Linked DNA regions of Homo sapiens: all the other regions are reported to be linked to region 1. Evidence: microRNA targets listed by miRTarBase, many of them from high-throughput screens and not tested one by one. Region 1 holds a microRNA gene; each other region holds the end of a gene's coding sequence.
The links. The annotated mature microRNA hsa-miR-4301 reads UCCCACUACUUCACUUGUGA and lies in region 1 at 2,795-2,814, shown strand. An mRNA with a match to its seed (bases 2 to 7 or 8) in the 3' UTR can be bound and repressed. Matches are read on the target gene's strand: a 7mer-m8 pairs with bases 2 to 8, a 7mer-A1 pairs with bases 2 to 7 and ends in A, and an 8mer does both.

Region 2: miRTarBase lists TBX15 as a target of hsa-miR-4301. Seed matches in the 3' UTR shown: 7mer-m8 at 1,788-1,794.
Region 3: miRTarBase lists IL1RL2 as a target of hsa-miR-4301. Seed matches in the 3' UTR shown: 7mer-m8 at 2,158-2,164.
Region 4: miRTarBase lists ARL6IP6 as a target of hsa-miR-4301. Seed matches in the 3' UTR shown: 7mer-A1 at 2,132-2,138 and 7mer-A1 at 960-966.
Region 5: miRTarBase lists GPRIN2 as a target of hsa-miR-4301. Seed matches in the 3' UTR shown: 7mer-m8 at 4,343-4,349.
Region 6: miRTarBase lists HLA-DOB as a target of hsa-miR-4301. The part of its 3' UTR that is shown has no 7-base or 8-base seed match.
Region 7: miRTarBase lists MIEF2 as a target of hsa-miR-4301. The part of its 3' UTR that is shown has no 7-base or 8-base seed match.

The regions. Positions count from the first base shown.
Region 1 is chr11:113,448,180-113,452,872 of GRCh38, reverse strand. It overlaps MIR4301 (microRNA 4301), which reads left to right and starts at 2,785; the gene lies at 2,785-2,850. The region is part of intron 1 of DRD2 (dopamine receptor D2); the gene reads left to right.
Region 2 is chr1:118,880,300-118,884,992 of GRCh38, reverse strand. It overlaps TBX15 (T-box transcription factor 15), which reads left to right. Exons shown (of 8, transcript NM_001330677.2): 8 at 1-1,946. The coding sequence ends at 261. Among named protein-coding and RNA genes, the nearest start is that of TBX15, 110 kb to the left of the region's middle.
Region 3 is chr2:102,238,792-102,241,791 of GRCh38, reverse strand. It overlaps IL1RL2 (interleukin 1 receptor like 2), which reads right to left. Exons shown (of 12, transcript NM_003854.4): 12 at 1,790-2,600. The coding sequence ends at 2,551. Among named protein-coding and RNA genes, the nearest start is that of IL1RL2, 53 kb to the right of the region's middle. RefSeq lists a silencer at 730-789 and enhancers at 729-1,023, 2,878-3,000.
Region 4 is chr2:152,758,541-152,763,233 of GRCh38, reverse strand. ARL6IP6 (ARF like GTPase 6 interacting protein 6) reads right to left here. Exons shown (of 4, transcript NM_152522.7): 4 at 838-3,487. The coding sequence ends at 3,394. Among named protein-coding and RNA genes, the nearest start is that of ARL6IP6, 42 kb to the right of the region's middle.
Region 5 is chr10:46,545,610-46,550,302 of GRCh38, reverse strand. It overlaps GPRIN2 (G protein regulated inducer of neurite outgrowth 2), which reads left to right. Exons shown (of 3, transcript NM_001385282.1): 3 at 1-4,693. The coding sequence ends at 943. Among named protein-coding and RNA genes, the nearest start is that of GPRIN2, 8.7 kb to the left of the region's middle.
Region 6 is chr6:32,808,932-32,813,624 of GRCh38, reverse strand. HLA-DOB (major histocompatibility complex, class II, DO beta) reads left to right here. Exons shown (of 6, transcript NM_002120.4): 5 at 154-185; 6 at 374-862. The coding sequence ends at 409. Among named protein-coding and RNA genes, the nearest start is that of HLA-DOB, 5.7 kb to the left of the region's middle.
Region 7 is chr17:18,263,466-18,268,158 of GRCh38, reverse strand. It overlaps MIEF2 (mitochondrial elongation factor 2), which reads right to left. Exons shown (of 4, transcript NM_139162.4): 4 at 1,607-4,449. The coding sequence ends at 3,395. Among named protein-coding and RNA genes, the nearest start is that of MIEF2, 5.2 kb to the right of the region's middle. RefSeq lists an enhancer at 263-856.

The sequences.
Region 1 (4,693 bases):
TGAGACCAGCCTGGCCAACATGGTGAAACCCCGTCTCTACTAAAAAAAAATACAAAAATTAGCTGGACATGGTGGCAGAAACCTGTGATCCCAGCTACTCAAGAGGCTGAGGCAGGAGAATTGCTTGAACCCAGGAGGAGGAGGTAGCAGTGAGCTGAGATTGCACCACTGCACTCCAGCCTGGATAACAAAGCAAGACCTTATCTCAGAAAAAAAAAAAAAAAAGATGGGGACTGGTTCAGAGAAGGGCCATACTACTGGGATATCCAGTGGTCAGTGGTCAGTGGTCAGGGAAGAATTCCAGAAGATGTGTGGTTTGAGTAGGACCCTGGGGAGGTGAGGGTGGATCTGAATCAGCAGTGTCTCATTTCCTGTCCCCCAATGTGCGCGCGCGCGCGCGCGCACACACACACACACACACACACACACACACACACGCATGCACACCAGTGGCCCTAGCCCTTGCTCCTCAACATGGAAAGCAAGGGCTAAACTTCAGACAAGCTTTCCCCATCTTCTGGAAACCACAGCTTCACAGTTGCTGCTTTTCTTGTGTATTTATTTTTCAAGTTATTTACATAAAGGATCCACCGGCCCCTTGGCTGTCAGACAACATTGCCCTTTCTCCTGGCTTTTATCTGACTCCTGGAGAGGTTGTCATGCTCTCAATTACCTGAAACATGCCTGTGTCCCAATATGATTTGGGGTCAGCCACCTCTTACTTTGCAAGCAGTAAGTACTACAACCACAACGGCCGAACTTGACGCACAGATCCCCATTAAAAGAAGAAGCGTGCAGGCTTTCCTGCAGGCCTCTTGGGCTGCTGGCAGGCAGGCTGGGGTGTGAGTTGAATGTGTTGGGCTGGAGGGGGCCAGAGGAGGGGAGAAGAAATGGGACAATGGAGCTCACTCAGCTTCCTAATCCATCCCAGCTATGGAATTTTCCTGTGAATGTTTATTTTTTTGAGTCATGTACACTGTTAAAGTAATATTTTTCAAAAGATTAAAAATCTGTTTCTCAAACAATTACATGTCAAAGATTCATTTAACTCATGAATGAGACAACTAGCAGAATGACAAAGCTGGGTTTAAGAGAGGATACAGGCCTATAATCCCAGCACTTTGGGAGGCTGAGGCCAGTGGATCACTTAAGGTCAGGAGTTTGAGACCAGCCTGGCCGACATGGTAAAACCCCATCTCTACTAAAAATACAAAATTAGCCGGGCGTGGTAGCAGGTGCCTGTAATCCCAGTTACTTGGGAGGCTGAGGCAGGAGAATCACTTGAACCCGGAAGCAGAGGTAGCAGTGAGCCAAGATTGTGCCACTGCACTCCAGCCTGGGTGACAGAGCAAGATTCCATCTCAAAATAAATAAATAAATAATAAATAAAAGAGGATACAGGAAAAATTATATATATACATATATACGTGGAAGAAATCTGGAATAAGATTGCTAAATTAGATGCAAAACTTAATGTCTCACAGGGCAACAAAATCATAAGGCTTTGGACAATCTTCTCTACTGGATGGAAATCACTCACATGTTACCATCTTTTCTAACTGTTAGCATCTATCTCATAGGTTTAGGCCCTTTGTGGATGGTAAATAGTAAACAAACAAAACAGATTCTCCTGGAGAATCAAAGCCTGAGGTGGGCTTGCTGCCTTATTAACAAGTTTTGGATACATATTCTTAACAGCTTAAAAGAATCTAGCCAGTCCTGTGCAGTGGCGATTCTGCAAGTTGCTGAATATGCCTATTCCAATTATGTGTTCTGGAACCAGAGAGGTAACTACAGGGTGGGTTCACAGACCCACTGGACCCACTGTGAGAAGGAACTGAGCTAAATCTCCATTGATTGCCTGACCTCCAGAAGTCCCACCTTTGACTGGGGGCTACAGTGATGTTTTGGGTCTCCAGGAATTAGTGTCATTAGAGCCTGGTCAGAGCCCTCACCTAATCTAGTAATCCTCCAAAAGTCTATTTTATTTTCCCAATGCATAGTTACCCTGGTAAGGAGTGGTCCGTTTGGAGAAAGCTGGGAGAAATATTAACAATGTAAATTTTTGGCAGGGGTCTTCCTCAAGAGGACCAAATCTCTCCTTCATTTACGGGTTCTGCATCTGTCAATTGGCTCAAATCTGGGAATTAATCAGGGGCCATAACTCTCTGTTTTGGTGAAGAAAGTTAGACTTCTGATCACTTGATATAGAACTCTTCTACTTAAAGAGATTGAGTGAGAATGTAGTAGACTGCCTATCTATTTCTCTGCTAAGGATACCATGATCACCTAGCCAACACTGTTGGTCTCAGACTATTTTATTAACTGCTTTGGCTCTGCTGTCCATTAGGCTGTGGAGACAAGGTGGGGTTTGGGAGAGGAGCCTTTGAGGCAGAATGTTGAGATGTGAGTTCTGATCCTGCCTTTGCTACTAACTAGCTGAGTAATCTTGTGCAAATAGAGAAGCCTCTCTGGGCCAGCTTCTTCAACTCCTAAAGAGGGAGTAATAACCCTGCCCTGCTTGGTCAGAGGGCTGTTTCGAGGCCTTCAAAAAGCACAACAATGTTGTTAGCTCTGGTTGCTTGTTTGGCATTGGTGTTTTAGATGGTGTGAGTAGAGGATGCAAGCTGGAAGTGCTTTGGCTCAGCTAGTGTGATGAGTTAGTTGCCGGGATTTCATGATAGGGAGATTTCAAATAAAAGTTCCAATTTCTGTCTTCTTTTGAAATATTGTTTCCATTCTCAAATGGCAACAATAGACTAAGGATCCCATTCTCTCCAGTTTACCAGCCACCTCCCACTACTTCACTTGTGAACATTGCATTCGTGGAGGGTGGCAGGTGCAGCTCTGGATGCTGGGAATAAGTGCATACAAAATGGAAGAGATATGAACTGCACAGCGAGACAAGTGGAACAGCAGGGCTGGTGCTAATCTGAACGGTAGCTCAGGGAGCAATCAGTTCTACCCACAACTGCTCACTAAACACCGCCCCCTGATTTCTTTCTTGGCTCTCAGCCATTTTGCTCTGACTTTGGGGTGAATTTTCGCTTCTCTGGTAGTCTCTCTCTGGCTCCAATTCTTGGAAGACCCATCCGGCTTGTCTGAGTATATCCACTTGCTAGGTATTCAGACCATTTCTGCACTCTCTTCAACTGTTACTCCAGCTTAAAATCACAGCTTAACTGGCTAACAGTCCTCCCATGGCTGACACCGTCTTGGTGGGAGCAGCTCCGTGTTATGGCCGTCACTCTGCTAGCCCAGCATTTATTCATCTAGAAGTTTTACTGTGCACCTATGATGGCATGTGCTCAGGGGGAAGCAGCATTATGCTTTTCCAAGCCTGCCCTTGGCTCACATGATCTGCTCATGTTGGAAGGACGCCTACAGTTCCCAACTCACTTGTGTAGCACAGGTGCTTGACATGTCCAAACGTCATGAATGCCAAGGCCTTCCTGTCTCACCTGCCCAATTTCCCAGGGCATCTCAGTTTCCCTCCTCCCCCAGGGGTCTGGGACATGCCTCAACTTTACAATATTACCTTGGCAGAGCCTCCCATATCAGACTCTATGGGAGCACAGCAGGAAGAAGTCTTGATGAGCTCAGAGGGTTCAGGGAAGGCTATTCTAGGAGGTGGGCTTTTCCCTTTGAAGAGTTGGAAGGATTTGGACAGTTGGGAATGGGGAGGCAGGTGGAGAAATGGCAGCATTCAAAGGAGGATGAGGGGAAGCGAGGGGTACAAAAGTCACAGACTAGATCAACGCCAGCTGCAGTCTAGCCTGTCCACAGGAGGGGCCAGCAGGTAATGTGGGAAGATCAAAGACAGAGAGCTAAAGAATCTGGACTTTTCCCTTCAGGGGAGTCATAGAAGATATTTTGAGCGAGGCGGTGACATGAGCCTGAAGCCATGGCTTTGGGAGGTGGACTTGGTGGGCATGTGCAGGATGGTCAGGAAGGCAGGCTAAAGGTAGGGTTGAGAAGAAACTCTTGAATTTGGCCCCCTGCTGACCCCTCCCATCTCCTCCATCCTGCCTGGGTCTGTGGGCCTGGTCTCCTCTTCGCAGGCCCAGTGTGGTGCAGCTCCTTTAGAGGTGGCCAAGGAGAGCTACCCAGCTCCTTACCAATCCTTTCCACTCTAGGGAACCCGAATGAGGCCTGACCCCAGTCCCCTCTCGGAAGTGACAATGAGCTTGAGGAAGAGACAGAATAGACTGCTGTACCCGTGCCCTTGGATGAGGACAGTGAACAACACCAGGCCCTCTGGCTCTGTCTTCCTCCTGTTCCTCTCTCATGGCTGGGGCTGAGATGAAGACAGGTGATTAATACTGCTGTCAAGAGAGCATCACGTTGCAATTACTGAGATGCCACCTCCTTCAGAAGGAAAAATATTGTAGCAGTGACTCCTGGGCTTTTTAGAGTGGGGAGCAGCTCTGACAGGGAGCCAGGAGTCTCTGTGTTTCCAAGAATAGCCAGGGAGTTCCCCCGGAGCTTGAGGCGTGGTTTTCAGCCACCGTGCATCTGGGCTGGGCTGGGATGCTGGAATCACAGTTGCTGCCTGGTTCCTTCCAAGGAGCGGCTGCCCCAGGTTGAAGTCAGACCCCCTTACCCATTGCTCTGGGCTTGGGTGCTCTACTGGCCTATGGACAAGAGATCTCATCAGGACAGGAAAAGAACGTCATTAGACTCCTGCATCTTC
Region 2 (4,693 bases), not on the chromosome of region 1:
CTGTATGGATACAATTTCCCCACTTCCCCTAGGCTAGCTGCAAGCCCGGAAAAACTGAGCGCCTCTCAAAGCACTTTACTCTGTTCTTCTCCTTCCAACGGGGCCTTTGGAGAGAGGCAGTACCTGCCGTCAGGGATGGAGCACAGCATGCACATGATTAGCCCTTCACCCAATAACCAACAGGCAACCAACACTTGTGATGGCCGGCAGTATGGGGCAGTTCCAGGCTCCTCCTCCCAGATGTCCGTGCACATGGTTTAAAGGCCAGTCCAAACACCACGGAGCATTTGGCAATCAAGGCCCCAGAGTCTCCGTGGTCAGATCCTCCTCTTTGGGAGTCCAGTGTCTTTGAAAAACAGGAACCGTGTTTTTTTTTTTTTTTTTTTTCTGGCCGAAGACATATACCCAAGAACAAGAGATACCTTTAAGCCAGTGAAGGATACTTGCGATAGAATCATCCGCAACTCAGTGGCCATTCTTCTGCCTTCCCAGACCTTAGTTTTATAAAGCATTGTCTGTTCCAGAGTGGCCTTTGAAGAGACTGAATAATCACTTCGTCATAATGTTAAGGGAGATGCTAGTGTGTGGCAGCCATGAAAAGTTACACATACACACCCACATACAGACAGACCTACCTATACATACGTGCACACACACATACATATTCATACACAATTCATACACATGCAATCATACATGCACACTGACTCTGAACTGGGTGAACTCTGTGGAGGGAGGCCCAGAATGGGTGCTTTCACCAAGAATTTGTCTGTGTACAACTCTAGATGGAGTGGGCCAGCAGTAGCTGCCAGTCTTTCTCCCCTGCAGCTTCCTCTGCTTCTGGAATGAACCATGTATCCTGGAGACCCTCCCAATGGATGAGAGTGGAAAGACATCAGTACAACTGGACTTGGCTTCCGGAAAAAGATTGCTTTTGAACTTTGGCTCTCTTCACTTGTATGCTATCATTGATATTCCCAGTGGTGCCCGTGGAAAGAGGGAGAAAGAGAAGCTGAACAGGAGAAAGACAAACAGAAAGAATAGAGAACAGGAACGAGGTGGAGAGCAAGACTGACAGAGAAAGTGTGAGCAATGATGAGAATTTTAATTCACCAAGGAGACGTGTTTTTGGTTTGTCCCCCCAAACCCCGCCCGCCCCACTACAGGTTATGGAAAGAATCATGGCATTACTGAGGAGTAAACCTCTCTGGCACACTGAGCATGGTCAGGGCATTGGTCAGAGGGACAGAGCAAGGAATGCATCCTGAGCCCACAGCTTTGACCACTGTGATCCAGAAGAGAGGTGCACTACGTGGGAAGTGCTGATTCCACAGCATGCAGCCTGGTAGGGGAAGGAAAATAAAAGGGTGTGAAGAAGGAATAGTTTTATAATCTCGGAAGATGATACCAAGAGCAGAGGCAACAAATAGAGGCCTGGCCTCCAGGTGCCGGATCCAGACACCTGACCTAGAATGCCTGCCCGCTATCCCTGTGGCAGGAAATATCCCCTCATGTCCCAGGGAATTGCAGATGGGTCTTCTATACCCTTCTACCTGCCCTTAGATCTCCATTTTTATCAAATAGTACATTGCATTTTGAAGTTTTGGGTTTTGTCCTTCATCTTTCCCTTTCCCTTCAAATCTTTTAATGGTAAGAAAGCAAGTGAAGCTTGGTGCAAGCTAAAATTTTTAAATGGTGTGGAAATGCAAATAATACCAAGTAAAATAATACAGATATTATTAAAGTTTCTGGTTTTGAGGTGTTGTAGATAAATGTATTTATGTGCCTAGTGGGGAATCCAATATTATGAATATGAAAAAGGGGGCAATAAAAGGGTATGTAAAATATGTATGAAGAAAAGGTGTACAAAAATTTGCCCTTATGCACGGAACTCTGTTTCTAAGTGCCAAGCACAGAAAGCCGCTAAATAAAATCTTTGCAATTGTTTTCTGCATGTTTGTTCATACAGAAAAATCAAATAACAGCCTTGTGCATTTTCATCGTGCATTACAGTGAGTATAGAAGTTATATATATATTACTCTATGTGATTTTTATATAGGCCCCATGAAGTGAATATTAGCATCCTTTTATAAGTAGTAACTGCATTCCAGAGAGATTGAATGAAATTTGTAGCATTATCCAGCCTGTCACAGAGGGAACGAGGACTTGAAACCAGATCTTCTGACTCTAATGGGATTTTTGCCTTCATATTAGCTGCAGAAACCTGTGTGAGGCTAATAGTAATTGTCATTGTTACTGTGTGCCACCTGATACTACATCATGTGTTTTACGTGATTATCTTATCCTCCCACAATTCTGTGAGATAGGTAACATTTGAATCCTCATTTTATAGATCCAGTAACGAGCTCATAAAATGTTAAATATTTGACCAAGTGGGGAGCTGGCAATCTGACCTTAGGGTCTGTGCAATTAGCACTGTCATTCAGCAGTACCACGAGGCACTTGGACAATCAGGAAAGAAGACATATCTTAAGGGATTGAGGTGAGAGTGCCTCTGGATTTTGCTTGGTATATTGAACAATAAGTATGTACTATCCTCCTTGAATGCATCACTGCAGCATGGGGAGAGTGGTTTTGAGTTGTCATGCACCAACTGACAACTTAGACTAATAAAGAGGCTAGGACTATGCCATTTACAAGAACTTTCATATATTATCTCACTGGAGCCTCACAATAACCATGAAAGGTGGACAGGCCAGGAAGTATTGTTTTGCAAATGAAGAAGTAAAAGATAAACTTTGTGACCTGCCCATTCTTAAGTGGCTGGGAAGCAGCAGAGCCAGGACTTGAAACCTCTTGCTCTTGCCCCTACTCCAGACTGTTTCCTGGTGGACAGTTACACTGGTTGCTCACTGACCCATTTCATCAGGGTTTGATTTGGTGGGCTCAGGTTGCCAACCACCACAGCCATTCACTGGAAATGGAGGTTGGTTTGGGAGAGCAAAAACCTTATTCATTGCTCTGGTTTTATAAATAACTGCAGAGGGTGGCATGCTAGTTAATTCCATTAGCCATCAGATCATTGCCAAAATAGCTGGACAATGACTGACTGAGTACCTCCACGGATTGTAGGCTCTCTGGGAATGACATGCCTCAAAACTTAGAAAACCACTCCTATTTGGAAACCTTGCATCACCCCTTGGTTTCATAATGGTATAACAAAAACAACTACATGTGAAGCTTACGGTTATTATTATTACTTTTTAATTTAGCAGCATACCAAACATTGTTCACTGATCTAACACCCTTTGAGGTTTGGGGTAATAGATAATCATAGTATGCCAATCAGAAAACTTGACATAAAAATCTCCATATTTTCACCCAATAGTAAGAATAATAATTTCAATAATCATTTAGAATATTAAGTACAGAACATTTTTGTAATTTGGGTTAATTAGAACAATCCAAGTTAGTTACATCTGAATTATGGCATATGTTTCCATGTGTACCTGAAGAAGTAATAAAAATGTTTTTTAAAAGACAAACTGGATAAAGAATTGTGAAGAATATGCTCTACGCAATTCTCTTTCATGAAATAGTGAGCATTCATTGTAATTGGCATAATGATTACACAAAGGGGTGTTTACTAGAAGGATTATTCTTCTATAGTCTAAGGTGCTCCACAATTGCTCATTTTTCTGGGGAAAGGCTATCTTATTCATCTTTGCATCCTCAATAGCTAGGACAGTTCCTGATCTATTATAGAATCTCAATACATACTTATTGTTTAATTTGTTGACCAAAGCCTTTTTTTAAGGATAAGAAATGGTTGCATGGCTAAATAATATTATTTACTCCAAGTTAAAGCTACCTAAATTAACAAAGGTTTATTGTTCTTCATATAGTATTCTGTAATAGATTAGTGTAAATGTAAATAGTAGCTAGCAAGCATCCGTTATACATAAGGAAGAGTAAAAATCACACCATGGTTTCTTTCTTGAAAGGGCTAGCTTTTTAGGCAGCCATTCACAATGAGGTGCATGATATAAAAGGCTCTGGAAATTCAAAGAAGATGTTTAGGGTAAGAAGAGGTTAATTGTTTTCATTGGTGAGGCAGAACTTCTACTGAGCTTTTAAGGATGCTCAGAATTTTTATAGAAATAAGAAATGGTGGGTTAAGAACAAAATAAGATTTTAAAAGACACTACAATGAATAAACATTGGAGGAAAAATAATAGCATTTCATTTCAGGGAGCAATTTAGTAAAGATAGAGATATTCAGAACTTTCTTACAGCCTATAGATTAATATCTTTTTCTATGGAGTATTTTTTCATTAGTGGGAGTTTTGAGAGCTGAGATCCAAGAGCAGAGCTGTCTGGTTGACGTGATTCACTGCTTAGTACTTTGAGCATTTCAGAGAAGCTCTGTTGTACCAGTTTGCATTCAGTAAGCTAAAGGAGAGTTGTTTTCCCAAGGAAACCCAGCCAAAAAGATGCATTTCACAAAAGCTTTTTTGCTTATGATCATCAATTGGAGATTTGTTCCCCACACTTATGTCAAGGTTCATCAGATTCAATTCAATACATATTATATAATGCTCTTTGTTAAGCACTGCTCTGGGCACTGAGAACGTAGCAATGAACAACCAGACATGTTCTTGCCTTTAGGAGCTCATGGTCTAGTGAGAGACTGACATTGAATACACTAGCAAGTAAATGAATAATTTCAGA
Region 3 (3,000 bases), not on the chromosome of region 1:
TTCCCTGGGGCCATGTCTAACAACTGTGTTACCCCTGGGTGGGTTATCTAATCTCTTACACACTTACTTTCTTCATTTTAAAATGGAGAGGATATAGGATAATTGACTGTTAATGAGATAATGTACTTAAAGAGCTTAGCTTAGGGTCTGTCTGGCACATGGTAAATGCCCCCCTACCTGGCGGCATCAGATCATTTGTGATGTTACACACATTTTCCGTTCACCGGGCTTTTGTACGAATTAATCCTTACTTTGTAAATGTCCTGTTCATATTCTCTGGCCCTTTTTGTAGTGGGCAATAAGGATACCAACATTGTATTATCCCTTTTTTACAGAGGAAGAAACTGGGGCACAGGGTTTTTGACTTGCAAGAGGGATTTAGCTAGCATACTCCCTCAGCAAGTGGTTGAGTTGTGACTGGAGTCCAGGGGCCCGACGCCAGGGCCACCTCTCTGAAATCCCTATGACCGCAGTCCCCTCTTGCGAGCACATAGTAAACAGGGCCTGCTGATCCCCACTCACCACCCTTGGACAGACTGCGACAGTCTCAGAAGCCCAAGAGTTAGGAACACATTCGAAAATGGCACTATCTCCACCTTCTCAGCAGCCGAAAAAGAAGAAAGATATCCTTGGCCTTAAGTTGGAGAGCCCCGAGAAGGTAATGTGTGCACCCCGGGATGCCCGCCCACCTGTAAGTCTCCATTCTGGCCGCCTAGGTAGGTTGCGGCAGCCTGAACGGGGCTCTGTGAGCTTCGGGCTGGACAGCGGTTCCTCAGCAGCCACTAGAGGGCGCAATGGCGCCGTAGGCAGGCACCGAAGTCCTTGTTTGCCGAGCTCAGGCGTGACCTTGTTTGTCCTGTGTCTCAAGAGAGGAAATGTTCATCTCTTTCTCAAGGTCCTTCACCCAGTGAGCTGCTTTCTTTTCCTCTTGATGTCATCCTTTTACACAGGCAGGAAATTATGTTCACTTCTACTATCCTGTGGTCATTTAAAACCACAAACAAAGCTGATTGACCAGGAAGTCAGATAATTAAAAGAGCCATAAGTTCTTGATAAAGCCTTGTTGATTGAAGAAAGCAAAGTAGCCAAAGTATCGTGATTGACAGGGGGACCAGCAGCCTGAGAGGCTGAGCTCTCCAGATTGCAGTGGAAAGGCATAAGTTGGTTATTAAAACAAGTTGGCGAGCTGTGACCAGCATTTTGAAAAATTGAGCTAGACTTGAACAAAATAGAACAAATAACATAGAACAGAGCTTTTTCCATTCCGTGTGTGCATACTGAGTTGCTTACTAAATTATGTTTCTCACTGTACTTCAAAGTTTTAAAAATATGAAAGCCTTGACCGGGCTCGGTGGCTCATGCTTGTAATCCCAGCCTCGGTGACAAAAGCGAAACTCTGTCTCAAAAAAAAAAAAAAAAAAAAAAAAAAAGGAGGAGAAGAAGAAATTTGGAGAAATGAGGCCATCAGAGAGGATGAGAGGACGAAAATATTCATCAGGACATAAAGCTTTGGTGGCTGTCAGACTGAGAAACAGTCCATCTACTAAGTGTGGGGAAAAAAAGCTATTGTGCATGACCCTCATGTTTCTCTATAGCCTCAATCACAGGTTGGGTTTTGCCCAACTTTTCAGTGGACCACACCACGAAGGTAGTGGATTTAAGGTGAAAAATATTTGAATGTTGACAAGCTAATTGTCAGATGATTTTAGCAGAAATCAGTTTTCATTATTTAAACTGATAAGAAAATGTTTGTGATTTTGACAGGCATGGTAAACAAACAAAATTGTGATTTATGTTGCTCAAATGAGAATAAAATTTATTTCACAAATTACTGATATTTTTAACATTTACAGTTTAATTGTTCATTGTGGAAAAACAGAGAAAAGGGCATACGCTGTCCAAGCACAGGCTTCCATGTGGGCTCAGCCCACCATGACATGGGGATGAATCCCAACTCTCACCCACCATGACAGGTGATCCCCCCAGCTCTCACCCACCATGACAGGTGATCCCCCAAGATCTCACCCACCATGACATGGTGATTCCCCCAGCTCTCATCCACCATGACGTGGGGATACCCCCCAGATCTCGCCCACCATGACATGGGGATGCTCCCAGCTCTCACCCACCATGATGTAGGGATACCCCCAGCTCTCACCCACTATGACCATGTGGATGACCACCCGCCCTCACCCACCATGACACAGGGATACCCCCAGATCTCACCCACCATGACATGGGGATGCTCCGAGCTCTCACCCACCATGACTTGGGGATGCCTCCCCCGACCAGCCCTCACCCTCCATGACCATGGGGATAACCCCCAGCTCTCACCCTCCATGACCACGGGGATGGCCCCAGCTCTCACCCACCATGACATGGGGATGGCCCCAGTTCTTATCCCATCCTCCTCTTCTCTACGCCTGAGCTCAACTGGGTGTCTAGAATGCTAACCCTAGCCTCATCCTGCAGCAGAAAATAGGTGTAGGAATGAGGAGACATGGAGCAAAACAAGTCATCTTCCAGCCATAGGTGTCAGTCCAGCAAGTCTTAGCCAGTCGTGAGAGTACACTTCTTTCTTCTTGAGCCTAGTTCTGGGCCTGAAATCAGGAAAGATCTATTTACTCCTTTTCTGATGTGGTGGGAGATGGGGGCTGATAAGGAAACCTGCCATGGGAATGCGAAAACCTCCACCTTGCCGTCAGTTCATCTGGTGGTATATCCCTGAGGCTTCCATTTCTCTTGGGTTATCTTTGCAAGGTGGTTATGCCAGAGGATCACAGGTGAGCAGTGTCAACTCTCACCTTTCCTATAAGAGCCCCAGAGGAAAGGTGAATTTGGATGACAAGAGCCAGGGCTCTGAGGTCCTTCTCAAGTGGAGAGCTCCTCTCCAGGGACAGCCTGGGAGATGAGGGTGGAATTGTATTAGTGAACAGCAGCATTTCTCAGAAGTTCCTGGGTGTATGGGAGGGGACATCCACACACAGAGTTCCCATCTCC
Region 4 (4,693 bases), not on the chromosome of region 1:
GAACCCTAATACAGATGGTTTCTGGCAGCTGACATAACCAAGAGCATGGGCAGAAATAGGAAAATAGACAAATATAGAAAATCTCTTTTTAAATCTGACTTACCAGAAGTCTGTCAATCATATCTTTTCCAGGAAACGACTTTTGGTATTGGATATTGTCCCCACTTCTTTGGTGTGAGTCTCCATTGATTGTATCCTTATCTTTCCTATTTCCAATCTTTCTTGTGTGTGTGGTGGGGGCGGGGATGTTACTCTGCTGCTTGTGCTTTTTATCTGCATTCTTAGCTCTTTAGCTTTCAATAGTACTTTCGTCCTGATAAATGTATTTGAAGTTATAAATTACCCTTACACAGTGTTTTATCTAGGTCCTACAAATTCTGACATGTAGTATTTTCACTGTAGTTTAAGTATTTTGTTAAGTATTATTCTTCCCATTCGACAGGTAAGGAAACCGGGAAATGCTAAGATATTAAGTAACAGTTGTAGTTCAAACTCATTACGTTGTATTAACTAAAGAATCATATCTTGATAACTACAGTAATATTCTTTCTGATAACACTTAAGGTGGAACTGAATTTGGGGACATAATTTCTTGATGAAACAGCAAGATTAATAATAGTTTAATTTATTCTAAAATGTCTTTTCAAGTCCCTGAGACTAATCACTAGCCACAGGAATACTTACACCCCGTTTATCTTTCACAAGTAACTAAATAGAATGCTGTAAGCTACACATAAGGAGATGAGATCATCTGAGTCAGTTTCACAATAGAGATGGATTCCAGCTGCTAGATAAGCTCATTTTGACTTGTTTTGTTGCAAATGACAAAAGCCAATGTAAACTGCAAAGGCCAAAAGACAGAAATTTATTGACTCACGTATCAAGAATGGCAGGATTGCCACTGGGCTTCAGGGACCAGGGTAACGCCATTAGCAATATCCGTTATCAGCCTTATTCTTTCCCACTGAGCCTGGCTGAACTACAGCTGCCAGCATTTCCTGGGCTTGCATTTTCCCAGCTTCGTCACATCTTAATTTCAAGCTGAAAAATCCTGGGAAGAGACATACTTCACTGAAGTCATTTCTCTATTCTACTCATTGTAGCCAGGCAAAATGAGATTAGGATTAGCTCAGCCAGAGTTAGGTGACTATCCTTGCCTAATCATTCTGCATATAGATGATTTATATTTGGACCCTGTGTCAGACTGGAGAGAGGAGGGTCATTTCCCAAAAAAGGGGAGTAACAGTCCAGAAGAATTAGGATTCCACAAAAATATCTTACGGATACATCTCTCTCTATATTTATCTATATTAATATATATCTTGTAGGTATATATAGTCATGTTTGGCTTAATGACAAGGATATATTCTGAGAAAAGCGTCATTAGGCAATTTCATCATTGTGTGAACATCAGAGTATACTTACACAAACCTAGATGGTATAGCCTACTACACACCTAGGCTATATGGTATAGCTTATTGCTCCTAGACTATAAACCTGTACTGCATGTTACTGTACTGAATATTGCAGGCAACTGTAACACAATGGTAAATATTTGTGTATCTAAACAGAGAAAAAATAAAGTAAAAAATGCAGCAGTATAATCTTACGGGGGGATTCACTATCATAAGTACAGTTCGTTGTGACCAAAACGTTGTTATATGGCACATGACTGTCTAGGGTGTACATATCTCTATCTAGGGTCTACTGTTAATAACTTTCCTAGTCATTAGACACAAACAATCTGGAGGGAGTTACTCACATTGGTGGTGCGTGGGAATACAGAGTGGTGGAGAGAAGATAAATTGATTCTGTTACTTGTGTACATCTTTGCAATGAAAGGGCTCTTTGGAGTCAAAGGGTGAAGAGTTTAAGCGTGCAGGAAGGAAGGCAGGGAGTGAAAATAGACTGATGGCAACCACCACTCTGGTAGGAATACTTAAGCCATGGGATTGATATTTAGATACACACACACACACACACATTTCAGATAATTTAAATTGGAGCAGTATTAGTCATTTCCAACCAAAGAGTTTTGAATAGTAAAAGAAATGCGAGACTTTTAGAAACCTTGTTTAGTCGGTAACAACATTCAGTAGATAATTAAGGGAACACACTGCACAAATTCATTTCCCACTTAGCCTGAATAAGCAGTTTGACTACTTAATGGTTTCTTATTGTAAGTTTTCCTATGGCCAGGGAAAACAGCTTTGTAAGTAGTCCATCTTTCTAAAACTGAGGTAACTTTCTAAACATTAAAAGTCTTTAGTAACATAGGGGAAAAATTAAGGCTTAATTACTTAGAAAACAAAATATCACAATTACAGGAGCACATTTAATTACAAAAATTATAAAATTATATTAACTATATGTAGTTTTTAATATCTAGTATCAAAATACCTTTTCTACTTTGGTAACTAAATTTTTGAGATTAAGAACAAACTAGTTCAATCATTCTCACATACAAAAATTTCATGTTTATATTTATTAAAAACAAAATAATGCAAGTTCTGTTAAAGTAACAATATATACACCAAGATAAATATTTGGAATTGTGGAAACAGAAATAGTAAAAATTTCAAATTTTTTCTCAATATCTTAATGACTTAAATAATTTAGCTTTTTTCAGGCATTTTTTGTTAAAAATAAACTTACTTAATTTTCAACTTAGGTCAATGTGCTTTTTTGCTTTTTTTAAAGACAAAAATTAGTAAAAATGGCAGGTACTAGGTTTGCACTAGCTAAAAAAATAATGTTTACAGTTGTCTAGATGTAACAATTTTAAAAACATACAAATTCAGTATGTAGTATGAAAATACATTAAAAAAACACATAAGGAACTATGCCCCATAAAAAATATAAATGCAACTTCTATTAATTATATGAATATCAAAAATTAAATATTCTGATTTAAAAGTAGCTTCTATAAAAGTCGGAGTAGTAGGCATTATTTGCTTTCCTAAATGTATAAATAAGAAGTATTTCTAGCTCAACTAAACAGAAATATCAGTATTTCTTAGCAAAAAATGTAGTACATACATGAAAAGGCAAGCATTGTCCTGTATTCAAGTTTTTGAGTTTAAATTCCATTAAAATGTTTCCTACAACTTGAAAGAACTACACACACAAAAGTAAAAAGATGAGGTAAACATCTTATACTCTGAAGAAAGTACTTAATACTCAGATATTCCCAATTAATCTGTATCTTAATACTCAGACATTCTAAAACAATGCTTTAAAAGGTCTTCCATAATGAGGATGATTGTGATAAATATCTGAACTACATAATGAACAGCAGGTTTCTCAGTCTTCTGAGTAGACAGTGATGCTCCTTCTTGTTATTACAAAACAATCATGATTAAGTTTTGCCAACAATATCGCTCCAGTGTGGGTTTACATGAGGCACCATGCTACAGTAAGAGCAGCTACGATGCCATTCAAAATCGCCATGCTATAGCCCATGTGGAAAGAATGTCCAGTCAGTTTCCTAGAAAAAAAGAAAAACACAAATCAAAAAAGAAAAATGTAACGTGGTATAACAAAGACACCAAAAGTTTTCATCGAAAATACTTATGACCTTGGAGTGTATTTCCCAAATGTTCACATATGAATACAAAACTTAAAGAATATTGGACATCTGCAGGATAAATAGTGGATAGATCTTATTAAGTCCTGTGTCAAAACTGTACTGGTTAACAATTACAGTTGTTTCAAATCATTACTGATGAGTAATGCTGAGTTTCATCCCTATTATTTCTTTACTGTGTTTCATTGTCACTGTGTGTAGCCATAACCTAATTCTAAGGTATAAGTTTTGTTATTTTACAAACAGTTCTTTCATTAATTAGCGGTGTGTTTCCATGCTGTCTGTTCTTACTTTGATTTGACTTAAAATACATATTATTTCAAGTATTTGTTCTGTTTGCACCACTTTTAGGTTATATGAAGGAACTCCCTATGTCTTTCATAGATATTTCAGCTATCATTCTAATAGGTTACTTAATTGAAGTGGTTTTCAATGAGTTCTTAAGAATCAGCAAAGACACATCTCTTTTATGATTGCTAGGAGTGCCAACTAGTTTAATAACTCTTATGTGCATGAATATTCCCTGACATTTGTTTCCTTTATCTTGTAACAATCTTACAACAGTTTTTCCCACTAACTGTATTGCAATAATACTATTTGCTTATCCTAGTAAGAATCAGACATATTAAAAAGAAAAGAAGGTAGTATCCAACTGAGACTCTCTAGAAGGCAGAACAGAATACTCTCCTTTCTGGAGCAAAACAAATTGAGGACACACAGGAAGGTGCACTAGCAGAAGTAAAAGCCAAAAGACAAAAGCAGTAAGGGCCCTGGACTGAGACGGTCATAAATACCCATATCCTCTCCTCCTTTCCTAAGGAGTAGCCAAAGCCAGAGAAGCACTTAGCTGTGAACTAACACTTGAAGAGCACCTCATAGTGATTCCAGTCGCACAATATCTGTGGCAGAGATTGAAGAAGGTACATTCTTCAAAGAAGAGCCCTTTGCATTCATCTGAAGCTACATAGACCCTGATGCTTCCTGATGGTTCCCTGCTCTGTTCCAAGGGAGTTATTATTTACTTTCGACTCAACCTTTCTTTACCCAACTAGGGCTAGTCAAAGATGCTTCTCATGTGTTATTAAGGGTTAATCTACCTACCTATAT
Region 5 (4,693 bases), not on the chromosome of region 1:
CCTTGGCAGCAGCCCTGTCCACAGGGCTCAGCTGCAGCCAGGTGGTACTTCTGGCCAGGGTGGCCAGGCCCCTGCAGGCCTGGAAAGGGACCTGGCTCCTGAGGATGAGACTTCTAACTCAGCCTGGATGCTGGGGGCGAGTCAGTTGTCAGTGCCACCACTAGACCTGGGGGACACAACTGCCCACAGCAGCAGTGCCCAGGCTGAGCCCAAAGCTGCTGAACAGCTGGCTACCACCACCTGCCATGCTCTGCCCCCAGCTGCTCTACTCTGTGGCATGAGGGAGGTGAGGGCTGGTGGCTGCTGCCATGCCCTACCTGCCACAGGGATCCTGGCCTTTCCCAAACTAGTGGCGTCAGTGAGCGAGTCTGGGCTGCAGGCTCAGCATGGGGTGAAGATCCACTGTAGGTTGTCTGGGGGGCTCCCTGGGCATTCCCATTGCTGTGCCCACCTTTGGGGTCCCGCTGGGTTAGTCCCAGAGCCTGGCTCTAGGACCAAAGATGTGTGGACCATGACCTCAGCCAATGACTTGGCCCCTGCAGAGGCATCCCCGCTGTCAGCCCAGGATGCTGGTGTGCAGGCGGCCCCAGTGGCGGCCTGCAAGGCTGTGGCCACCAGTCCGTCCCTGGAAGCGCCTGCAGCCCTGCATGTGTTCCCAGAGGTAACTCTGGGGTCCAGCCTGGAGGAGGTGCCGTCCCCTGTGCGGGATGTGCGATGGGATGCTGAGGGCATGACATGGGAGGTGTACGGAGCTGCGGTGGACCTGGAGGTGCTCGGTGTGGCCATCCAGAAGCACCTGGAGATGCAGTTTGAGCAGCTGCAGCGGGCGCCCGCCAGCGAGGACAGCCTGTCTGTGGAGGGCCGGAGGGGGCCACTGCGGGCTGTCATGCAGTCCCTGCGGCGCCCCAGCTGCTGCGGCTGCTCCGGCGCGGCCCCCGAGTGAGGAGCTGTGGCCCTTGGAGCTGGCCTGGGCCCACTGACTTAGTCCTAGACCTGGGCCAGGGACGGTGGGGGCTCCGTGCCCCCTGGACCCACCGGCAGCTGGGCACATCTCTCACCTGAATATTGGCTGCCTCCAGACCACAGGACTGCAGCCTGGGGCTTCCGGCCCTACACAGCTGGGCTGTTTTCTTAAGGGCTTGATTTCCAAGGGCCACATCTCTGCACCTTCCGGGCTCTGAACTTTGAGACAGGGCTTTAGCACTGTGCAGAGGGGAGATCCTGAGTTTTCTGTAAAAAATGACCTTTTGTTCACTCCACCCTCAGAACTCTGCCATGTTGCCTCGTCAGACTCTTGGTGGCTTTATTTGAAATCAGTGCTGAGAAATAGTGAATTCTCGACATGAAATGTGAGGCCCCAGTGACAGGGACTGCCCAGGTCTTTAGGGAAGGGGACTGATGTTATCAGAGGCCTCCTGTGTGCCACATACTGTGCTTGTCCTGTCTTCACCTCTTCATCCTGGCAAGCCTTCATTTGGCAAGGCTGTAGCCGATGTGCCCCACGCTGGACAGCTTGAAGAGGTGGGACTGAGATCCAAAGCCAGGGCCAGCTGAGCCGTGGGTGTTGCCCTGTAGCATGTGCCCGGTCCAGTCAGTGCAGTCATGTATGAGGAGAATTTACTGAGCTCATACTCTGTGCTGGGTTCTGTGGATTCTGTGGTGAATGAGACAGAGGCTGCCCCTGCCCTGGCTGAGCTCATGGTGTGGGTTGGGGATGGCAGGGGAGGATGCTGACCATTACGGAGGGCTGCCAGGCTTCCAGGGTCATTGTGTCAGAGGCTGGCCTGAGGAAGGGGAGAATGGGTGGCCACCTGCCCTAATCTCAGTTACAAAGCCTAAAATTGCACTATTTTCACCTCATTCTGTCGGCTGAAGGATTTCTCCCCAGCTGGTGCAGTTTGTGGAAGGAGGGAGGGCAGGAATGGAGGGGGACAGGGCAGGAGTTTGCCCTGGCCCTGGGGTAGGGGCTGTGAGGCTGTGGGGGCTCGCTTGCCCACATGACCTGACCTAGGCTAGGCAGTGGGGGCCAGGGGCCTTGGAGAGACAGAAACATGGGCTTTGGCACAGTCTGACTTCATTGCCCAAAGATTTCTCGAGGCCTGTGAAGAATGGGAGTGGGCTTGTGTTCTTGTCCTGGGTCTTTGTCTTGAAGATCCTAAGATCCCGTGACACAGCCCCCCAATCCACCCGTGTGAGGGACCAGAGGGCTAGTGTGGGGTCATGGCCCACGACCTGGCCTGTTTCTGGAGCCTCTTCTGCACCTAGGAGCCCAGGACCCCCACAGTGGTGGCTTACTTTTCCCCATCCTCAAGGACCTGGTACTCATTGAGGTGGAAATGACTCATGCAACAGTTGGTGAATTTGTAAAGCAGGAGTGGCATTTCAACAGGCCACAAGGACAAAGTGACAAAGGCGTGCGTCAGGTCAGATGCCTCCTGAAGCCCAACGATGGACCATTCTCACCCGTAAACATGCCTTTCCCATATGCATAGGTGCACCCCTTGGGATTCTGGGGCTGTCAGTCCCTTTGTGTATGGTGCCAGGGCAGGCAGCTCACGTTCTGGGGAGTGACACATGGGTATATGCCATCTTCATGCCTGGCTCCCCATGGAGTCTCCAGGAACCCCAGCCTGTTAGGGCCACATGAGAGAGAACAAATGGCTGTGGGTGCATGGGGAGGGACCTTTCACACAGGGCCATAGCTAAGTAGGGTCTTGAGGATGCAGGGGTTAGACAGGTGGGTGGAGAGAGGGCAGGACCTGCCTGGCAGATGGAACAGCCTGGTCAGATACTTGGATGTGCCTGTCCTGCCTGGGCCATAATGAGTTTCTGCAGTGGCGGCTCATTTGGAGCGTTTGTTGGGTTGGGAGGTGACCAGGGGTCCCCATTGTGAAGATCCTGATGTAAATGAGGAAAGGAACTTTAAGGGAACTGTGGAAGGGGTTCTGAGGTGGGACCAGATTTCAGTTTAGAAATATCCATTTGGCTTCCAGTGGAGATGTGCCAGGTGACACCAAGGAGGGGCCTGTTTAGGGGCAATGGAGTGGGCAGCTGGGGGCTGGGTTCATACACGTGCACACACACGCATACACAGGCACACATGTGTGCAATGGATTTGGGGAGGAGGCATTTCAGGATGCTGAGGTTTCCAGTTTGAGCAAGAGGAGGGTGAGGCCACTACCTGGGTCAAGGTGAATGGCATGTTCAGCAGGTGCAGAAAGGGCCACCTGCCACAGGGTTTGGCTGGGACCAGTGAAACCTACTTCATGAAGAGACTTTCTTCTGTGTCACGTGCAGATTCTTATGCATTCACGCTGGCTGGGTGCCACTCTGTGCTACCTCCATGCTGCCCTGGCTTGCCAGGATGGCAGGCCGGGCTGGGCTCAGCCAAGCTCCCACTCACCTCATCGTCACTGAGATGAGTATTTGCAGAGCGGTGCTGAAATCCAACACCTGTGTCTTGGCTGGGGCCCCAGATGATTCTCCTGGCTAAACCACGATCCTTGTCTCCCTAGCCCAGTTGCACAGCTGCTGCTGACAGGTCTACCTGAAGTGACTGCAGCCTCATTTCTGATTGGAACTGGAGACCCCTCCCAACCCCCTTTGCTGTGCCCTCTCCTGGAACAGCCCTGATGCCTGCAGTGGTTTAGGGCCCCAGAGCATGGCCAGCGGTTTAGTTTACAGATCTCCTCCCCTTGGACTCTAGATTTCTGGCCAGACTTTCTGGGTCCCTTTCAGGCCCTGCTCTGGGAGGTGTTGGAGTTCACTGTTGATGTGTTTGTTTGGCTTTGAATTCAAAACAGATACAAATTTGGAGGTGAGAGCTTTGCCAGACCCCAGCAGGGATGGGGCATCGGTCCTGACTGGTCTTGTTTATTTTGTCCTGGTAAATTCTGTTCTTTGGAGCATAAACCCTGGAGTCCTAGAGCCCCTTGCCTCAGCAGGAATCCCCCCTCTGTCTGCTCCAGGGGCTCCCTGCTTCTGCCCACCTGCTCTCCTTCCATGGCATTCAGGACCCCCGACAGCTGAAGCCTCTCTTCATATAGCTTGTCCCCTCTGGGCCTGCCTGTCTTGTGTCCAGGACACAAGACACGCATCCCTTGTCTGGCCCCAGGCTGCCATCACTGTCACAAGAAACTCATAGAGTAGAGCTGGTCTGAGGTCACAGTGCTGGTGGTGGTGGAAAAGCAGGGATGGCCTGTTCCACTGTGATCTTACCTCCTGTGTCACCTGGATTGGGTCTCTGTCCCCTTAGACATGCTAGATCCTAACTTTACAAGGGCTGAAGGGGTCTTCTACACGCAGGTCCCAACACTTTGGGCTGGGGTTGGCCACCGTAGCTTAGTGGGCTAAAGCTGGAGTTTGAATCTGGATATATAGGATCCACACCTATAGCCATGTGATCTTGGGCAAGTTACAAGCCTTGATCATCTTCCTCATCTGTAAGATGGGGATGACAATGGTGCCTCCTTCACATGCTTGGTGTGGAGATTAAATAGAATAACCCAAGTAGTGCCTGGCACTGAGTTAGTGCTCAGCACACAGGCTGGTAGTGTTGGGCACCCCTCTCATAGCCACATTCAGGGGCCACCTCTTACCCTGCCAGCTTGGCTGTGATCACAGCCCACATCCCACTTCCTTAAAAGTCCCTTGTTCAGAGCCTCTTTCCAGGTTCCTCGCCCCACAGCTTTGC
Region 6 (4,693 bases), not on the chromosome of region 1:
GCCTCTCAGGGATCACCGGGATAATTTTTTTCTGAAGCTAGAAATGGGATAAGCAGAGAGAGTGCTGACCTTGCCAGCCATTTGTTCTTCCCTCGGGATAATCATATTGGGTCCTAATTGGGGCAATCCATTCTTTTCTCGATTTCTTTCCAGGATATGTGAGGACGCAGATGTCTGGTAATGAGGTAATGTCTCTTTTTCCTTGTCTTTGAGTGGCAGATCATTCTCCCGGTTCTTTGGCCAGAGGGAGATGACATGGGGGTAGGGAGGAGTAAGGTTGCTGCTGTCTGGATGGGACTGTCCCCTGAGTCTCTGGAACGGCTGTGGGGGGTGGTGAGGCTGCCTCCTGAGACCTTCATCACTGTGCCTCCAGGTCTCAAGAGCTGTTCTGCTCCCTCAGTCATGCTAAGGTCCTCACTGAAGCTTCTCTCTCTGGAGCCTGAAGTAGTGATGAGTAGTCTGGGCCCTGGGTGAGGTAAAGGACATTCATGAGGTCAATGTTCTGGGAATAACTCTCTTCCCTGATCCTTGGAGGAGCCCGAACTGATTCTGGAGCTCTGTGTTCTGAGATCATGCATCTCCCACCCATCTGCCCTTCTCCCTTCTACGTGTACATCATTAATCCCCATTGCCAAGGGCATTGTCCAGAAACTCCCCTGAGACCTTACTCCTTCCAGCCCCAAATCATTTACTTTTCTGTGGTCCAGCCCTACTCCTATAAGTCATGATCTCCAAAGCTTTCTGTCTTCCAACTGCAGTCTCCACAGTCTTCAGAAGACAAATGCTCAGGTAGTCACTGTTTCCTTTTCACTGTTTTTAAAAACCTTTTATTGTCAAATAAAATGGAGATACAAAAAATGTACATTTTAGTGAATTATTTAAGAAAAACCCCTGTAATCAAGTCAAGGAACAGGACTTTGCCAGCTCCAGCGGAAGTCTCTGTACGTCAGGCCAATCAAAGCCTCTCCTTCCCCTCGAAAGTGACCATATCCTGATTTTATTGTAACCTCTTTCATGTCTTTGTAGTCTAGTCCCCCAGGTATGTGTTCCTGGACGCCACAGCTTAGTTGTCTTTTACGTCTCTCATACTTCACTGGTTTCTCCCCCATCAGCCTTTTTTTCCCCCTTATGATTAATCTGTTGAAAAGCTCAATCCATTTGACCTGTAGAGTTTCCCACACTCTGGATTTTGCTGGCTGCGTACACATGGTGCAGTGTAACACATCCTCTGCCTTCTGTGCCTCCCGCAAATTGGCATCTGGATGCAGAGGCTGGATCAGACTCTGGTTCAATCTTTTCCTTTGGAAAATCTATACGTGGTGTTGTGGCCTTTCACCATGAGAGACATAATTTCCAGCTGTTTCTTTTTGTGATGTTAGCAACCATTGATACTAATTGCTTAGGTCTGTTAATTTATTGGGGATTGCTAAATGGTGGTATTCTGTCATTTTTTCTTCATTTATATGCTTTATTAATGCTACAAAGAGACAGTTCCCTTCATTTACTAGTGAAGAGACACTTCCCTCCACTTACTAGTGGGCTACTTAGTGGTACAGTGGAAAGGCAGGATCAGTGTTTGACTCTCCTTTTATTTACCAGTTTTCAAGTTAGCAAATTGGTTTCCTACTATTAATAAAACCTACAGATGGCCAATCAGGTTTTACTTTTCATTCTTTAAATAATTATAAACAGAAGGATTTAAATGTTTGATAGGTTTTACTCTATTGCAATTTTTATGCTTGTTAAAGCTTATATCCTACATTTTTGGTGAGTGAAAACTTCTTCAAGTGGCTAAAAATGAAACTGAGTTCTTTTGACGCAAATTTCTTTTGATAATTTCTTTGTTATCTGGGATGACAACATGTTTCTGGTTCATCTTGTTCATTTCTTGGCCAGACCTGGAGGTAGCCATTTTTCCAGAAATCCCTGGTTTAGTTTAGTGGGAAATGACATTTAAGACTATAATCCAGCGTTAGGGTGTTTTGTCCCACTGAACCCGCTGCTGGAGTCACCTCAAAAGTGGCGTCAAGGGAGTTACCACAAGGAAGTTCCTGAAACCATTCTGAGATGGTGTGGGTTAGGATTCAAAGAAAGAAGCACTAAATGCCAGGGTGATCAGTCCAAAACATTTGTTTAGGGAATTTACCTACAGAGGGCTTCAGGAGTCCTTGCAGACAGCAAGAGAAAAGGGATGTTCTGCCTAGGTATGTCTGCAGCGAGGGGGTCAGGGTATGGAGCTTATATGAAGGTTTAAGGAACCTGGCTCAGGGCTGGGACAAAGTTTCAGTGTTTAGAGAAACAACCTAGATACGTTTATCAGTGCCTGGGAGTGTTCAAGGCCTTGGCTTGGGTTCGAGCCTGCTGGGAAAAACCTGCAGCTGGCTGGGTCACAGAGGCATTCTGTGATTTTTCGGTCAGGACATGGAAAGAAAGCAGGGAGAGGGGCAGTGGGGGAGCCTAAATAGATAGGAATGGTCATTGTGTCCAGCCTGTTCAATGGCAATAAAACATTTATACATGTATACATTTAAAAAAATCAGTCATCCAGGCACGGTGGCTCACGCCTGTAATCCCAGCACTTTGAGAGGCCGAGGCGGGCGAATCACGAGGTCAAGAGATTGAGACCATCCTGGGCAACACGGTGAAACCCCGTCTCTACTAAAAATACAAAAATTAGCTGGGTGTGGTGGCACGCGCCTGTAGTCCCAGCTACTCGGGAGGCTGAGGCAAGAGAAGCGCTTGAACTTGGGAGGTGGAGGTTACAGTGAGCCAAGATTGTACCACTGCACTGCGGCCTGGTGACAGAGCAATACTCCATCTTAAAAAAAAATCAGTCTTCTCTATATTACTTCTGCATCTCCTTTCTTTTATACCAAGAACTCTGGTTTTCAAGGACACAGGGACAGACACAATTAGAATGTCCATACTTATTTGCTTTTCCTGAGTTAACATAGACAGCAGTCTAAGGATAATAACACTCATACACAACCACCAAAATGGCTACTGAAAACGGTTGAAATTCTTTTTACCTACATTCTCCCTATTACCTGTGTTCTCCCTTTTTACCTATGTTCTCCCCCGCTTTCTAGTTGAACTATGTCTATATTAGTTGATCCTGTACCATTGCATAGACTACTTGCTCCCTTGTTAGTCTTAGTTCTGTGAGTAGAGATATGTTTAATGCTCACCATCATTCCTTATGTTGATATCCCTGTCATGTGGTGGTTTTCAAGGTGTGGTCCATGGATTCCTGGGGGTCCCTGGGACCCTTCAAGGGGCCTATGAAGTCAAGCTATTTTTGTACTAATACTAAGATGTTATTTGCCTTTTTCACTGTATTATTTACATATTGGTACAGAAATCTATGGTGGTCACGTGAAACTGTTAGTGCCTGAGCACAAATCAAGGTGGTGACACCAAGCTGTACAGGTAGGTCATGTTCTTCACTGCCATAAGCTTACAGTAAAAAAAAAAAAAAAAAAAAAAGCAAAAGCCAGTGACCTTGATGAAGCAATAAAATCATTAGTTTACTAAATTTTAAACCTCAAGCACACATCTGTTTAATAGTCAGTGTAAGAACATAGGCAGCATTTCTGGTGCATACTGATGGAAAGGCAGTTGTCCTGTGGAAAAGCCATTATGTAATTGCATGAGTTGTGAGTGAAGTTAAACATTTTTTTTTTAGTGGGTCATCATTTTCCTTGAAAGAATGACTGAAAGGCACACTGTGATTATTCAGACTTGGGTATTTGGTAGAAATTTTCTCAAAAATAAACAAAATGAGCCTATCCCATCAAAGAAAATAATATTGACAGTGGAAATTGGAATTTCAAGAGAAAATTAAAATTTTGGAAAACTTACGTGTGCCACAGCTTCTCACTACTTAAAGATGTTTCTGATGAGATTGGTGGTGATATTAACAAATATGGCTTAAAAAATATTGTTTAATAAAATATGTCAACATTTTAAAAATCTGCGTAAACCCATGAATCAATAATTTACAAATAATCAATGCATGATATTGCAAAGTCATGCATAAAGATCCATTTAAAGATAGACTAGTGAATTTTAACACAACAGAATATGAAAAGTTAATATATAAGGTTTCAGATTCCACACTGCAACTAACCTTTAAGAATCTGCCATTTCTTGAGTTTTGGTGTCTTATCAAGGAAGAACAGTTACGATAGCTGAAATGGTTATGGAAACTTTCCTTCTTTTCCCAACTGTGTATAAGAGTGAGGCCAGATTTTCCTCTTGTGCTTTAGCCAAAACAACATATTGTTACAGCTTGAATGTAGAAGAATATATAACCAAGCTAGCTTTATTAAGCCAGACATTAAAGAGATTTTTACAAATGTAAAATAATTCCTTTTTTTTCACTATTTTTTTGTGCTGGAGAAGACAGCTATTTTCCATAAAAGTGTGTTGTTTATGTTAACATGTAATGGGTTTGTTATTGTTATTTAATAACAAATAAATTAATATAAATGTCACTTTACATAACCCATGTAAACTAAAGCTTCTTGGTGTTCTCAACAATTTTATGAATAAAAAGGGATCCTGATATCAAAAGAATTATAAGCTACTGATGTAGTCATCATGATTGTTTGAAACTATTTCTCCTAGGTGCCTCAGGAAGACTTAGGAAAGTGTCTTAGTTTGTATGAGCTGCTATAACCAACTACCAGAG
Region 7 (4,693 bases), not on the chromosome of region 1:
TCCTGGACAGCTGCGCTCTGACCAGGGGCTGGAGTGGCATCTGGGAGCACCTTGCTGTGCTGGGGCTTGGATGTGGCTGGAGGGTGGGGCACAGCTAGGCCCACCAGTCCTCGTTCCCAGGCATTATGTTAAGCACTGCCCACCCCAGTTAATCGTCACAAGCACCTGGGGTTGGGTATTACATGACCCTCCCCAGTTAAGAGATGAGAAGACTGAGGCACAGGCTCTGCCCCAGACTGTTCCCTTGCTGCCCCAACACCGCCAAGGAAACTGCTCAAAGCTCTCCAGCATCAAGGCATCAAGTGATTGGAATGGACCTCAGCCAAGTGATTGGAATGGACCTCAGCCAAGTGTCTCCCACCTTGGACCCTTATAATATCCTCTACAAGGAGCCCTCGTGCCCGCCTCTTGCCCTACACCCAACACCTAGAGGCCTACACCACTATTCCATTTGCTTGGCACAGTCCTGCTTCCCTTGGGTCCTGCAGTCACAGCTGGAAGGGGTAGGGGAGTCCCCTCAGGACGTAAGTCGGGGAAGGACCAGCAGGGTGCGAGTGGCACAGCTAGGCTGGAAGCAGCCCTGCACGCAGACCAGAGCCCTCCCCAGCCCACATGTGTCATCTGGTGATAGGAAGTGAGCCCTGGCTTTGGCTCTTGCGGGTGAGAGGGTTAAGATGCCCTGGCCTCTCACCTGCACAAGGCGGGGCAAGTTTCCTCCCCACTTGTGCAGCCACAAAGAGGTGCAAGGGAGGTAGAGAACACACATTTCTGGCCGGGTGCGGTGGCCCATGCCTGTAATCCCAGCACTTTGGGAGGCCAAGGCAGGCAGATCACAAGGTCAAGAGATCAAGACCATCCTGGCCAACATGGTGAAAATCCATCTCTACTAAAAATACAAAAATTAGCCGAGCGTGGTAGCGCGCACTTGTAGTCCCAGCTACTCGGGAGGCTGAGGCAGAAGAATTGCTTTAACCCGGGAGGCAGAGGTTGCAGTGAGCCGAGATCGCACCACTGCACTCCAGCCTGGGCGACAGAGTGATACTCACTCTCAAAAGAAAAAAAACACAGGTTTCTAAAAAATGATGAGCATGGCTGAAGGGCTGTCAACAGCCCACTAATTACAGAAAGTATGGTGCAGGGCTCAGCAGTTCAGCCTTGCGGGAAGAAACATCCCAAACTGGCTGGTTCCCATTACTAAAGCAACACCAAGCTTTTCATCTTTTCCTTCCACTTACCTTACTTGTCACGGACAGAAAGTCTGTGTCCCCTTCAACTTGTATGCTGAAATCCTAACCCCCAAGGCACTGCTAACAGGAGATGGGGTCTTTGGGAAGTGATTCGATCATGAATGTGGGCCCCCACCCCATGGGTGGGCTTAGTTTCCTTATAAGAGACCCTAGGAGAGCATTTCCCCCCTTCCTCCACATGAGGACAGCTAGATGGGGACACCTATGAACCAGGATGTGGGCTCTCAACCAAACATGGAATCTGTGACTCACTCTTGGATTTCTAGCCTCCAAAATGGTAAGACATAAATTTCTGATGTTTATAAGCCACCTAGTCTATGGCATTTTGTTATCACAGCCCAAACAGACTGAGATGCTAATTTATTATTACTATTATTATTTTATTTTATTTTATTTTGAGACAGAGTTTCACTCTTGTTGCCTAGGCTGGAGTGCACTGGCACGATCTCAGCTCACCACAACCTCCGCCTCCCGGGTTCAAGCAATTCTCCTGCCTCAGCCTCCCAAGTAGCTGGGATTACAGGCATGTGCCACCATGCCCAGCTAATTTTTTTGAATTTTTACCAGAGATGGAGTTTCTCCACGTTGGTCAGCCTGGTCTTGAATTCCCAACCTCAGGTGATCTACCGGCCTCGGCTTCCCAAAGTGCTGGGATTATAGGCGTGAGCCACAGCGCGGGGCCAAGATGCTTATTTATTTATTTTTTTGAGACAGAGTCTTGCTCTGTCGCCAGTCTGGAGTGCAGTGGTGCAATTTCAGCTCATTGCAACCTCTACCTCCCGGGTTCAAGCAATTCTCCTGCCTCGGCCTCCCGAGTAGCTGGGACTATAGGTGCGTGCCACCACGCCCAGCTAATTTTTGTCTTTTTAGTAGAGTTGGGGTTTCATCATGTTGGTCAGGATGGTCTCGATCTCTTGACCTCGTGATCCGCCCGCCTCGGCCTCCCGATGTGCTGGGATTACAGATGCGAGCCACCACACCCGGCCAAGATGCTACTTTTTAAAGTAAACTCTACCACCTCCAATTGACCTCAAGCACTCTTGCCAAAGTGCCAGGACAAGCCACAGGACTTACAGAAAACCCTCAACAGCTGCGTATGAAAGCACCAAGACTCCCTTATCCAGCCTGAGTTATATATACATTAGAATTTTTTCCTTTTATTCTTGTTCACATCTTCGAAGCTGAGCTTCGTTTCAAAAGGAAGGATACCAGAGGCAGGAGGAGGGTCACTTGGGAGGGGAGGTGGAATCTCCCTCCTCTAGCCCCCTTGCTACCTCTTAACAGGCTTCAAAGTCAGAATACAGCCATCAGCTGAGAGCAGTTCATTTTGGCACACTGGGAGGCCGGCTGTGCACACCGGACCTCTCTAGTGGGGGATCAGGTCCTCTGCTCTCCAGTGGGGCCTGGAACAGCTCCAGTGAGATGCCCCAGCTGTGGGCTGGGGGTGCAGCACAGAGCCTCAGCTCCCCCAGGACCCTCAGCTGCCTGAAGAAAACACTCACCTGGCTGGAGGGAAAAAGGGCCTTGCCCTGAGGTATCAGGTGGGTGGCAAGTCATACTGAGCTCCCGCTCAGCAAGAAAACTAAACGCACAGAAGACAGCAGGAAAATGCCATCCTTTAACAGCCAAAAATCTGTCCTTCAGGGGCACCAGGTGACTCCAGCCCCTGGGGGACAGAACAAACACACCATACCTACCATCAGGCACCAGACGCCTCAAAACGCCTGGAGCTAGGGCCGGAAAAGGCGTTAAGTCACCTTCTCTCAGCAGAAATGTGAAGCTGGCCTTCAGCTTCTGCCCAGGATGGCAGAAACCACATTCTGTTGGTGGATTGGTTGCTGGTGATGGACAGAGCCAAAGGTCCTGGGGTTGGCCCCAAGAGCTGAAACGGTGCTTGCAGGAATGGCTGGCACTCCAAGCTGCCTGAGGCAGCCCAGCTGCACTCAGGTGACAGTGACCCAAGCTCTCTGGGCTCAGGGTTTATGGCCACCATAGCCCAAGCACATCCTGATGCCCTGGGTTTAAGTAATGTACCCTCCTTTGTTCTGGCAAAAAGCTAGAGAAAAACCACTATTCAAATCCCTGGAAGGGAGGTGGGTGCAGCTCCCCAGCATTAGAAAACATGGCAACCACCCGTTTCCACCCACCTAGAGCAGCCCCTCGGGCTCCTGTAGGCCACTGTATAGCGCATAGCCAATGTCGTCAATCTCCTCCTCACGCAAGCTGCTGAAGAGGTTCACGCTGGGGTTGAAGTGGCAGGGCAGGCTGGCCTGCTCCAGGCTGCCGATGAGCAGCTCCAGGGCTTGCAGGAAGCGCTCACCCAAGGCCTCCTCCGTCCAATCCACGTTGTCCTCCCCCAGACGCAGGACCACCTGGGTCAGGTGACCCCGGCCTAGCTGCCCCAGAGCCGAGCAACCACGGCAGACAGCACACAGCAGCAGCAGCAGCCGCCGGCGAGTCCCAGCGTCATGGTCGTCCAGGGCTCGCAGCCTAGCAGCCTCCACTGGATACAGGTCCTGCAGCCAGAGGTTCCCCGCCAGCCCCTCCAGGGGCCAGGCCAAGAGGAGGCGGTCGTCAGCATCGACCCCAGGGACTGCCACAAGCACAGCCACAGTGAGCTCCAGGCGTTCGTGCTGCACCTCGAGCAGCAGCTCCTCCGAGGCCATGCTGGGCCGGATCAGGCACCCGAGAAGGCTGCCAATGGCCGGCCAGTTGACAGAAGCAGCCAGCGCCTTGCGGAGTAGCTCCAGCAGGACGCGGGAGGAGAGGTAGCCCCCGACCAGGAAGCGGTCCCAGGGGCTGCTCCCACGGGGGCAGAACTCAAGCTGCGTCCTGCGCACGGCCCAGCAGCGAGGGTCCCTCGCCACAGTGTCCACGCCCGGCACCAGGCTCCACAGGCCCGGCTCCAGCACCAGTGGCACCAGGAGACGCACATGGTCCGCAGCCCCCGCCTGCAGCCCGTCGTAGAGCGGCCCCCCAGGCACGAATGCCCCAAAGGGCAGTTCCGGGAACTTGCTCCGAAAGTAGGCCTGCAGCTCCAGGGCGATGTCGCCAGCCAGCTGTTTGGCCAAAGCCACCTGGGCTGCTGGGATGGTCACACGGTCCCGCTCGAAGGCCAGCAGCCTCTCCTGCAGTGTCAGACACAGCGGTGCTGGGGAGCTGAGCTGTGGTGTCACCTCAGGATCAGTTTCTGCAGGCCCTTCTGCAGAGTGAAGGGGCGGGGAACATGTCGGAACAGCCTGTGATTAGTTAAGAAAACGCCACCGAGAACTAGCTGTGTGATGTCCCAGGGCCTCACTTTTCTCACCTGCAGTGGCACCTGAGAAGGCACTCAGTTCAGATCCTCACATATAGTGAGCTCTTGGTGACGAGTTCTCATTGCCCCAGAGTCCAACACCCTGGCGACAACAGCTTCATGCAGAGTAGGTAGGTATGTCACGCCCCTC